Linked DNA regions of Homo sapiens: region 2 is linked to region 1. The links come from fine-mapping of genetic effects on gene expression. Tissue or cell type: whole blood. Region 1 holds a variant in brackets; the other region holds the start of a gene. All regions are shown on one strand. Distances are between the middles of the regions.

Evidence for each region. PIP is the estimated chance that this variant, and not a neighbour inherited with it, causes the effect.
Region 2: ZSCAN18 starts here. The variant in region 1 is fine-mapped to the expression of ZSCAN18 in whole blood (INTERVAL, PIP above 0.99). The same link has a PIP of 0.9 or more in blood mononuclear cells.

The regions. Positions count from the first base shown.
Region 1 is chr19:58,179,879-58,185,023 of GRCh38, forward strand. ZNF274 (zinc finger protein 274) reads left to right here and starts at 3,183. Exons shown (of 8, transcript NM_133502.3): 1 at 3,183-3,564; 2 at 4,043-4,120. The coding sequence starts at 4,088. RefSeq lists enhancers at 2,794-3,507, 3,176-3,595, 3,508-4,219, 3,846-4,035. The variant T/C (reference allele first, on the strand shown) is at 2,625.
Region 2 is chr19:58,096,169-58,101,313 of GRCh38, forward strand. It overlaps ZSCAN18 (zinc finger and SCAN domain containing 18), which reads right to left and starts at 2,063. Exons shown (of 7, transcript NM_001145543.2): 1 at 2,006-2,063.

The sequences.
Region 1 (5,145 bases):
CTATGCAGACTATATTAAGAGAGAAAAAGTAAAAATTAAACTTTGCAATTGAATGAAATAACTACTATTTCTACAACACACATTTTCACTTATGATCCATAATGCCTTCTATGTAATTCAAAATTCCAGATATTTTCTAACAGAAAATTTCTCCCTGTTATGAGTCTGCAAAATTTATATGAACAAGGCTATTTATATTTTGTCTCTCTTCCACCTAGTGTAAATCTTCTTGTATTTTGCTACAGATATACTCATGTGTTTGATGGCAGGTGCTACCCCACACCTCTTAGGGATTTACACACTGTATGGTGTAAATACATTACCATCCTACTAAAATCCAAATGATCATGAATTCCAAAATACATCTGGCTCAGAAGGTTTTGAACAAGCAATCGAGGCACTGTCTAAATCCAACAACGATGAATAAATTTTTTCAACATTTTACATGTTTAATAGTTAACATTTCTTCAGAAGTCATTTTTATTTTACAAATTACAATAAACAGCATATTTAATTTGCTAAACAGGAAAAGAGTATGCAGTTATTAAAAGTTGAATTAAAATGGCTCTCATAAATCAATCTTCAATAATATGCTTATATAAAACCATCTTTAGGTTGGGCACAGTGGCTCAAGCCTGTAATCCCAGCACTTTGCGGGGCCGAGGTGGGCGGATCCTCTGAGGTCAGGAGTTCGAGACCAGCCTGGCCAACATGGCAAATCCCCATCTCTACTAAAAATACAAAAATTAGCCGGGCATGGTGGCACGCCCGGCTACTCAGGAGGCTGAGGCAGGGAGAATCACTTGAACCCGGGAGGCAGAGGTTGCAGTTGAGCCGAAATCACGCCATTGCACTCCAGCCTGAGCGAAAGAGCGAGACTCTGTCTCAAAACAAAAAAAAAAAAACAAAACATCTTTGGTCAGGCATGGTGGCTCACGCCTGCAATCCCAGCACTTTGGGAGGCCAAGGCGGGAGGATTGCTTGAGTCCAGGAGTTCAAGACCAGCCCTGACAACACACTGAGACCTCATCTCTACACAAATATTTATTAAAAATTAGCCAGGTGTGGTGATGCACACCAGTAGTCAGTCCTAGCTACTTGGAAAGCTGAGATGGGAGGAACACTTGAGCCCAGGAGGTTGGGCCAGCAGTAAGCCATGACTGCAGCACTGCTCTCCAGCCTGGGCAACAGAACAAGACCCTGTCTCAAAAACAAATTCTTTTAATCAAAAATCAGGTTTTATCCTATACCACATAAATAGAAAGAAATCATTAGAAGAATTTCCACCTGCCTGGGCAACATAGTGAGGTTTCTGTCTCTACAAAAAAGTACAAAAGAGGCCAGGCGGGGTGGCTCATGCCTATAATCTCAGCACTTTGGGAGGCTGAGGTGGGCAGACTGCCTGAGGTCAGGAGTTCGAGACCAGGCTGGCTAACATGGAGAAACCCCGTCTCTACTACAAATACAAAAATTAGCCAGGCATGGTGGCACACACCTGTAGTCCAAGCTACTTGGGCAGCTGAGGCAGGAAAATCGCTTGAACCCAGGAAGCAGAGGTTGCAGTGAGCCGAGATTGTGCCACCTCACTCCAGCCTGGGCGACAGAGCAAGACTCTGTCTCCAAAAAAAAAAAAGCCAGGTGTGGTGGTGTGCACCTGTCCCAGCTATTTGAGAGGCTAAGGTGGGCGGATCACTTGGGCCCAGGAGGTGGAGGCTGCAGTAAGCTGTGATCGCACCAATGCATTCCAGTCGGGGTGACAGAGCAAGACCCTGTCTCAAGAAAAAAAAAAAGAAAGAAAAAAAAGAATTTCCAAGGGGGTTTGCTTCCTTGTGATTATGAAGGGCTAGACGTATCCTATTCAAATCCAGAACAAAACAAGACTATTAGTAAACATGACTACTTAACATAGCTCTGTCATACTAGCTAGGACTATACAATGTTAATTTTTTAAAGTTGAAATATGGAAAAAGAAGATATCAAATTACTTATTAATTGGGGATGGTGTTGTATCTATAATAGACACGAAAAATCCAATGAAATATTATTAGACTATAAGATATCTGCACAGTCTCTGAGTAAATACTCCTATGCCAAAATCAACACACTAACAGCAACAATTAAACAATGTGTAGCCTGAGGTTGGATCCTCCACAGTGACCAAAAAAACCAACAACCCGTGGAACAAGTTTAGCAGGCAGTGTACACGACCACCAGAGGGAGGCAGAGGGCTGCTGAGACCTGCCAGGAAATATCAAGAAAGAGGACACAGGGTCCTGAGCACTGAGAGAGATCATTAGGGCCCTCAGGTCCCAAGAAGACAAGACCATACTGGGACCTGGGACCTAAGGAAGATAAGAAAACACCAGATGTCGGTCCTTGAGGAAGCCAAGAGAATACCTCCTTGTCCTGAGCTCCCAAGGAAGATGAGAGCACCCTGGGCCCAAGGATGGGTGGCACACACCAGGTCCTGGACAGCTACAGACTTAGGTTTCCTCTCCCTAGACATGAGCACCTCAGCTTCCAGGAGCAAACTGGACCACAGGGGGACACTAGGCAGAGGATCCTGCTCCTCCTCCCCAATGCCTGGGGTACAGTTAGCCCTGATCATCTCTCCAGAACTAGGG[T/C]AGACGTTTGGCCTCATTCCCATCACACTTGTGGTCCACCTAGTCTTCCCTCCTTCCCCTTGCACACCCCTGACCTTCCTACTCCCTTCCTCTAATCCCCAGAACTAGGGTGGACGTTTGGCCACGTTCCCATCACACTTCCGGTCCTCCGAGTTTCCCTCCCCTCCCTGACCTTGAGTGGACACTTGGCCCTGTCCACCCTCACTTTCAGGCAGGACCCATCTCCCAGAAACATAAGTGCCGTCAGTCCCAACTCCTGCACACTTCCGGCTCTCCCAGTCCTCCCCTTCTTTCTCGACTTTGAAACTGGTGGAACTTCAGTACCTCTCCCCACTCCCCCCGCGACTTCCGTCTTCCAGTCCCCCTCCTTCCCCAAAAGTTGCGTGGACTCTAGCCCCGCCTCCTACATTCTCCCCGCCCTCCCTGTCCCCGCCCCTCCACCCAGATGGACGGCCAGTTAGGCCCGCCCCCTGCACTTCCGGCCCTACCCGCCCTTCCTCTTCCCAAGGGACGTCATAATTAATCCCGCCCCCACCGCCACCCAACCAAGCATCACCCATTCCAGCACTTCCGGCCTGACCCCTGTCCAGCGCCTTTCCTTTCTCCAGCTTCTGCTCTGCCCCAAGAGTGGTCGCCTTCGTGGCAGGGCACGACTCTCTCCCAGCTCGGGTCGCCGCCCACATTAGTGTGGGGCCCTGCGGCCTAGCGTCCCTCACCAGAGGCCTCCCCTTGCCTAGCTGGACCGCCGAGGGACATCGACGAGTATCCTCCTCCTGCTGTCCCCGGCTTCGCCTGCCGCCCCTAACCGGCCAGTCAAGATGGCCGCCGCTGGGTGAGGCAAGCTGGCGCGCCGCGGGGGCGTCTGGGAGTTGTAGTTCGGGACGGCGGGCTGACGCACTTCGCCGCCGGCCGACGGGCGCCATTGTGCGGCGCGCGCCGGGTGAGTGCCGCGCGAAACCTGCGTCCGTCGGGGGCTGCGCTGGGCGGGTCCAGAACCGTTAGTTGGGGGCGAGCGCGGCCTCTGCATTTTCCGCCGAGCTCGGGTACCCTGAGCCGGCCGTGCCTGCAGTCCTCCCGCCGCTCTGTGGGATGGGGTCGGTGACCCGGAACCCCGAGGGGAGACAGTGCTTTCGGGGCGCCGCGGTGGAGAGAACAGATCGCCTCCGGAAGCGTGGGGTCTGGGCCAGGGAGGCGATCCCCTCCGATGCGCGGGACAGAGGAGGCTCGGTGTCCTCTCGGGGAGGGGAAAACTGGTCCTATCCAGTCCTGTGGGAGTCCTATGACTCACTCTGGGCGTTTTCCAGTTTGGGTGGACTTGTCATTTCCCGCTGAGGGAGCCGTTCCTGGGCGGAGGCTGCGGTAGCTCCCCAGCGGACACCTTAAGCCTCTCCCTCCCCTCCCAACTTCGGTTTCCTCAGGACTCTGCCCACTTCCACCAGAGACACATTGAGAAGGAGGAAACTATGGCCTCCAGGCTTCCGACGGCCTGGTCCTGTGTGAGTAGAGGCTTCCTTCAGCTTTTGAGTCCGCTACTGCACCTGGGAGGATGCGGATGGTGGTGAGATACCACCTTCCCTGAGATACCCCCATCCTCCAGAGCACCTCGGGGAGGGGGTAGAGATTGGTTGGGCATGAGAGATCCTGCGTGATGGTGGAACCGCAGGTTGCTTGGTTTTCCAAGGGTGTAGTTAGAATAGAGACCAGATTGTAGGGGCTTCTGAAGGCCAGGTTAAGGCTCTTGCTTGTATCCTTTATATTGGGAAGAGTAATTGACAGGTCTTTTGTTTGTTTGTTTTTTGTTTTTTGAGATGGAGTCTCCCTCTGTCGCCCAGGCTGGAGTGCAGTGGCGCGATCTTGGCTCACTGCAACCTCCGCCTCCTGGGTTCAAGTGATTCTCCTGCCTCAGCCTCCCCGAGTAGCTGGGACTACAGGCGTGTGCCACCATACCCAGCTAATTTTTTTTTTATTTTTATTTTTTGTGTGTGTTTTTTGTGGAGACGGGGTTTCACCATGTTGGCCAGGCTGGTCTGGAACTCTTGACCTAAGGTGATCCGACCATCTCGGCCTCCCAAAGGTCTATGCAGGGATCAGGCTTATGTTTAGATTTCAGCAGATAAATTGGCATCAAGCAAGAGGTGACAGCAGCAGAGTTCAATAACAAGTAGAAAAGACAGGTGAGGATGGATCCCTGACAGGTGAAGGAGATAGAAAGAAGCATCAGGGCCCTGGGTAGGGGCTGACGGCTTGGGTGTGATGGTGCAGCTCAGAGAATTCCCTAGGAGGCATACGCACCACTCCCAAAGTCAGAATTTTCAAATGAATAAGAAATAGGGGGCCGGGCGCGGTGGCTCACGTCTGTAATCCCAGCACTTTGGGAGGCCGAGGCAGGTGGATCACGAGGTCAGGAGATTGAGACCATCCTGGCTAACATAGTGAAACCCCGTCTCTACTTAAAAAAATACAAAAAATTAGCCGGGCGTGGTGGCGGGCGCCTGTAGTCCCAGCTACTCGGGAGGCTGAG
Region 2 (5,145 bases), 84 kb before region 1:
CTGTGATTGGCCACTGCACTCCAGCCTGGGCGACAGAATGAGCCCGTGTCTCACAAACAAACAAAATAGAGATACCACTGGGACCCTTTCCTGCCACAGCCTGCTTGAATGAGGCCACACCTCGTTGGAGTCTGGCTTGGTCACTGGGCAAACCTCCCTCCCCTAATCTTGGGACTGTCCAGGATTTGCCTCAGATGGGATTTTCCTGGAGCCCAGCCCCCCAGCCTCAGCAAATGAAGCAATCTGCACAAGTCTTGAGCCAGTCCTGTAGGCTTTGCTGCACCCAGAGGCCTGGAATACAGAAGCTGAGGCAGAGAGCTCCACGGTGGGTGAGGGGTGGCTGAGCTGAGGGGTCCCAAGCCTGGTGGGTCTCCAGAGTCCTGCAGCAAATCCCCTTCATCCTGGGCTGAGCAGAGCTCAAGCCTGGTTTGGCCCTCCGTGGGCCCAGCCCTGGCCACCTGAGGAATATTCATCGCAGCTCTCCATCCCACCACACTCATCGGCAGGGTCTAGCAAACCACCCCACAGCCACAGGCCTGAGGATCAGCCAGGGAAGCTCAATGCATGGGATGTGGTTGTTGATGGGTCGCCGGATATTCCCAGGGTCTGCCCTGGCTTCATCCACAGATCACTTACTCATTATAAAAAGGGGTAAAAGTGCTTTTAAAAGAATGAAAAAACATGGAGTAAGGGTCGTCGTTCACATCTCAGCTGCCTTTTGTGGTCCCTGATCCACTCGCCAGGACAGACAGAACCAGAGAGATGTCCTGCGCAACTGGCCTAGGCTCCCCGAAAACCCGAGGCCAGAAATACCCAGGAAGTCACAGATTCAAGCATCATGCACAGAAAACAGCAACTCGATGCGACACGTGGTCCCGCTCTGACTCCAGGGCAGGAAACCATCCGCAGGACATGATGGGATGGGGGAAGTGAAATGGAACCGAGGAGGTGACATGGAACCAAGTGACTGTGCCACTCAGCCTCGCCCAGGAGTCAGCAAGGACACAGGCGAATATATGGGAAAGTGGAAGGAGGGCAGACAGAAATGGGGGAAGCGGGGAGGGAAGGTAGCAGGGAGAGAGAAGACAGGAGAGGAAGGAGCAAGAGCAGGGAAAGCCAGATAGTCTGGACGGGGGTAGAGGGGGATTGGGAAAAGGAAGGAGCCCAGGAGGGTGAGAGAAAGGAAATGGGGAAGGAGTGATGGGAGGGTGAGTCAGGCCCCCACCCCAACCCCCTGGGTCAGGACCGAAGCCAGTACACCCACTCTTGCCTCTTCCACGAGAGAGGTCTCCGGGGTGGGCGCAGACACCTAACTCAAACAGAACCCACCCCCAGGTGACTGGGGAGAGGCGAGATATTCCAAGGGTGGGGGCAGCAGAGACAATGCCCATTCTAGGCACCCCTTTGGTCCCCGCACCCTCCATCCCTTCCCTGCTCCAGCCCCTGGGGCCACAGCCTGCCCAGCGTCCCCCCACCACGGACACCCTCACATCCTCACACCCTCAGCCCCCACTTCCTCCCCTCCTCTTCCCTTCAGGAGCCTCCCCCTCCCTTCTCTTCCCCACTCAGGAGCCTCCCCCTCCCCCTTTTCGCCCCCCTCAGGAGCCTTCCCCTCCCCCCTTTCTCCCCCATCAGGAGCCTCCCCCTCCCTCATCTCTCCCCCATCAGGAGCCGCCCCTTCCTGTTCTCCCACCCACAGGGTGCCCTAAGCGCCTCCCCTCCACGAGCCTACACGGGGTGGGGGTTGCACTAGTTCCCTACCTGCCTGCAGGGCCCCTCACCGATCTGGATCTCAGCCACCTCCGGGGGGACCCGGCCCCTGCCCCGCACTCCACGCGAAGGGATGCCAGACCCTCGGCCTCCTGGACGCACAGCGGGGGCTCGCACCCCAACCCCGGGAACACCCTGGCCCCTTTCCCTAACGCTGCCCACTGAGGCGTCCTCACCGTCTACCCTGTTGGGGTCGCTCTCTGACCCCCGCGCTGCATCCCCGGGACCGACCCACCTGCTGCGCAGCTACCCCAGGCCGGTCCCAGCCGCCCGGAGCCCCAGTGCGCGATGGCGGCCGGCAAACTGCGCCTGCGCACTGGGCCTCACCGCGGACTACGACTCCCACAATGCCGCGAGGCTGTGCCGCGCACCGGGGCGAGCAAGGGAGCCGTGACAGGTGACAGTGCGCATGGCCAATCAGACGCGAGTGTGGCCTCCCGGCGTCCCGCCCACTCCGGCGCCTGCGTCATTTTGGGCACCATGGCAACGAAGTAAACAAGCGGGTAAATAATAGACCCCTGACAGCCAGAGACCCGGAGAAACAAAGACGGTGAGAAACGGAGAAACAAAGACAAAAAGACGCGCAGACCGGGAGGGAGAGAAGCATGAAGGCCCACAGACGCTCGGGGGCAGACCAAGACGCCCTGGGGTCCCCGAAACAGAGATGTACAGAGTCGGACACGGAAAGGGAGAGACCAGCTCACGGTTAAGAAAGGAGGGAGACCAGCCCAGGATCAAGAAAGGGAAAGACCAGCATGGGCTCAAGAAAAGAAAGAGACCAGCTCAGGCTCAGGAAAAGAGAGAGACCCAGAGAAAAGGAGCACTCGAGGCTGAGACAGATCTGGACAGAGATACAGAGACAGGGACCAGCAGACCCAGTACTGGGGAGACAAGAGGTGGAGACCCAGAGACACTGATGCGCTAAAATGGGTTCTACAGTTTCAAGGAGTGGATAGAACTCAAAGATTACCCACCCCAGGGATTCAGGAGCTGCTGAAATGAGGGAAATGTGAGTGGCAGCTGGGGTGAGGGCTTTGGCAAAGCCCCATATAAATGTAGCCCCCCTGGAAGGCAGGATAGGGCCAGGAGCTGCTTCCCATTTCAGTTTTCCAGATAGAGGCGCTTATGAGGATGCCATTTTGGTCGTTTTTGTGTGAACTGATTTTTAAAATGTATATCTGAACAGTTTATATATTTTAAATTTACATACACCACACATTTTGGTATTCAGTTTTATGAATTTTAACTCATATCCACCAACAAACTCGGGACAAAGAATAGCTCCACTGCCCAAAAATCCTCCTGCTGCCTCTTGGTAGTCACTCCCTCCCCACCCATAACCCCAGGAACAGCTAATCTAAGTAGTCCACTGCTACAATTTTGCCTTCACAGTGTCATATAAGTGGGATCATACAGTATGTGGCCTCTTCAGATTGGCTTTTTCACTGAACATAATTCCTTTGAGAGGCATTGAAGTAGTATGTATCAACAGTTCATTCCATTTTATTGAGAAGTAGTATTCTATGGTATATAGCAGTTTAAACCTTCTCCCACTGAGAGATATTAGGATCGTTTTAAGTATTTTGCTATTAAAAATAAAGCTGCTATGAACATTCGTGTACAGATTTTTCTGTGAACGTAAGTTTTCACTTTTCTGGGATAAAAGCCCAAGAGTGCAGTTTCTAGGTCACACAATGAACACGTGCTTATTAGTGTTGTAAGAAGCTGCCACACTCTCATGCAGAGTAGCTGGACCATTTTACACTCCCACCACCAATGAATGTGTGAATCCACTTCACATTTTTATCAGCATTTGTGTTTTGCTATTTTTTATTTTGGCCATTCTGATAGGTATGTACTGATATATCATTGTGGTTTCAATTTGCATTTCCCTTAATTGCTAACAAGTTTGAGCACACTTTAATGATTTTTTTGGCATTTGTATACCCTCTTCATTAAAGTATCTGTTCGTATCTTTTGCCCATTTTCTAATTTTTAAAAAAATTGCTCAGTTTTGAAAGCTATGTTTTTTTTTTTTTTGAGACAAGGTCTCACTCTGTCACTGAGGCTAGAGTGCAGTGGTGCCATCATGAATCACTGCAGCCTTGACCTTCCAGGCTCAAGTGATCCTCACCTCAGCCTCCCGAGTAGCTGGAACTACAGGTGTGCGCTACCATACCCAGCTAATTTTTTTTTTTAAGAGATGGGGTCTCACTATAATGCTAAGGCTGGTCTCAGACCCCCGGGCTCAAGCAATCCTCCCACCATGGCCTCCCAAAGTGCTGGGATTACAGGCATGAGCCACCATGCCCAGTCTTTCCAGTTTATTTTAATGGATATAACTCAGGAACTGCCAAATGGAAGAGATGCACAGCTAAGGTCTGGTCAGGGGCACTGAAGGTGCAGTGCATCCATGTACCGTCTGGGTGAGCCATCCTCCCAGCACTCAGATGTGTTCACCAACCCAGCTCTCTCAATCGTGGGGCAGAGAGAGGGTCCATACCTTCTTTAAGGTGACTATCCCCATCCTGAAGATATCTATGGGTCCCACTGGAGTCACCTCATTAGCATAAACTCAGGTGTGGTCGAAACGGGCTCCTTATGAATTGCAAACCCTATTCCTATTATTCACAAAATTCCAAGGCTTTTAGCTCTGTGCCAGGAACCAGGGATAAAGATCAAATGTAAGGGCCAGGCGCGGTGGCTCATGCCTGTAATCCCAGCACTCTAGGAGGCCAGCGGGCGGATCACGAGGTCAACATGGTGAAACCCTGGCTCTACTAAAAATACAAAAATTAGCCAGGCATGGTGGCAGGTGCCTGTAATTGCAGCTGCTCGAGAGGCTGAGGCAGCTTGAAACTGGAAGGCAGGGGCTGCAGTGAGTTGAGATCGCACCACTGCACTCCAGCCTGGGCAAAAGAGCAAAACTCCATCTAAAAAAAAAAAGAAAAAAGATGAAATGTAGGTTTTATTACACCACAGATGGCCAATTGTTCTTGCACCATCTGGAAAAGGCTATCTTTCCTGCATTGAATAGCTTTTGCTCCTTAAAAAATCAGTCAGGAATATCTTTGCAGGTCTATTTCCGGGTTCTCGATTCCGTTCCACTGATCTATGTGTCTGCCAATACCACATTGGGTTACCACGGCTACAGAGTAACAACATCAGGTGCAGTTATTCCTCCCACTTTTTTTTTTTTTTTTTTTTTTTTTGAGACAGAGTCTTGCTCAGTTGCCCAGGCTGGAGCGCAGTGGCGCGATCTCGGCTCACCGCAAGCTCCACCTCCCGGGTTCACGCCATTCTCCTGCCTCAGCCTCCCGAATAGCTGGGACTACAGGCGCCCGCCACCATGCCCAGCTAATTTTTTTTTTTTTT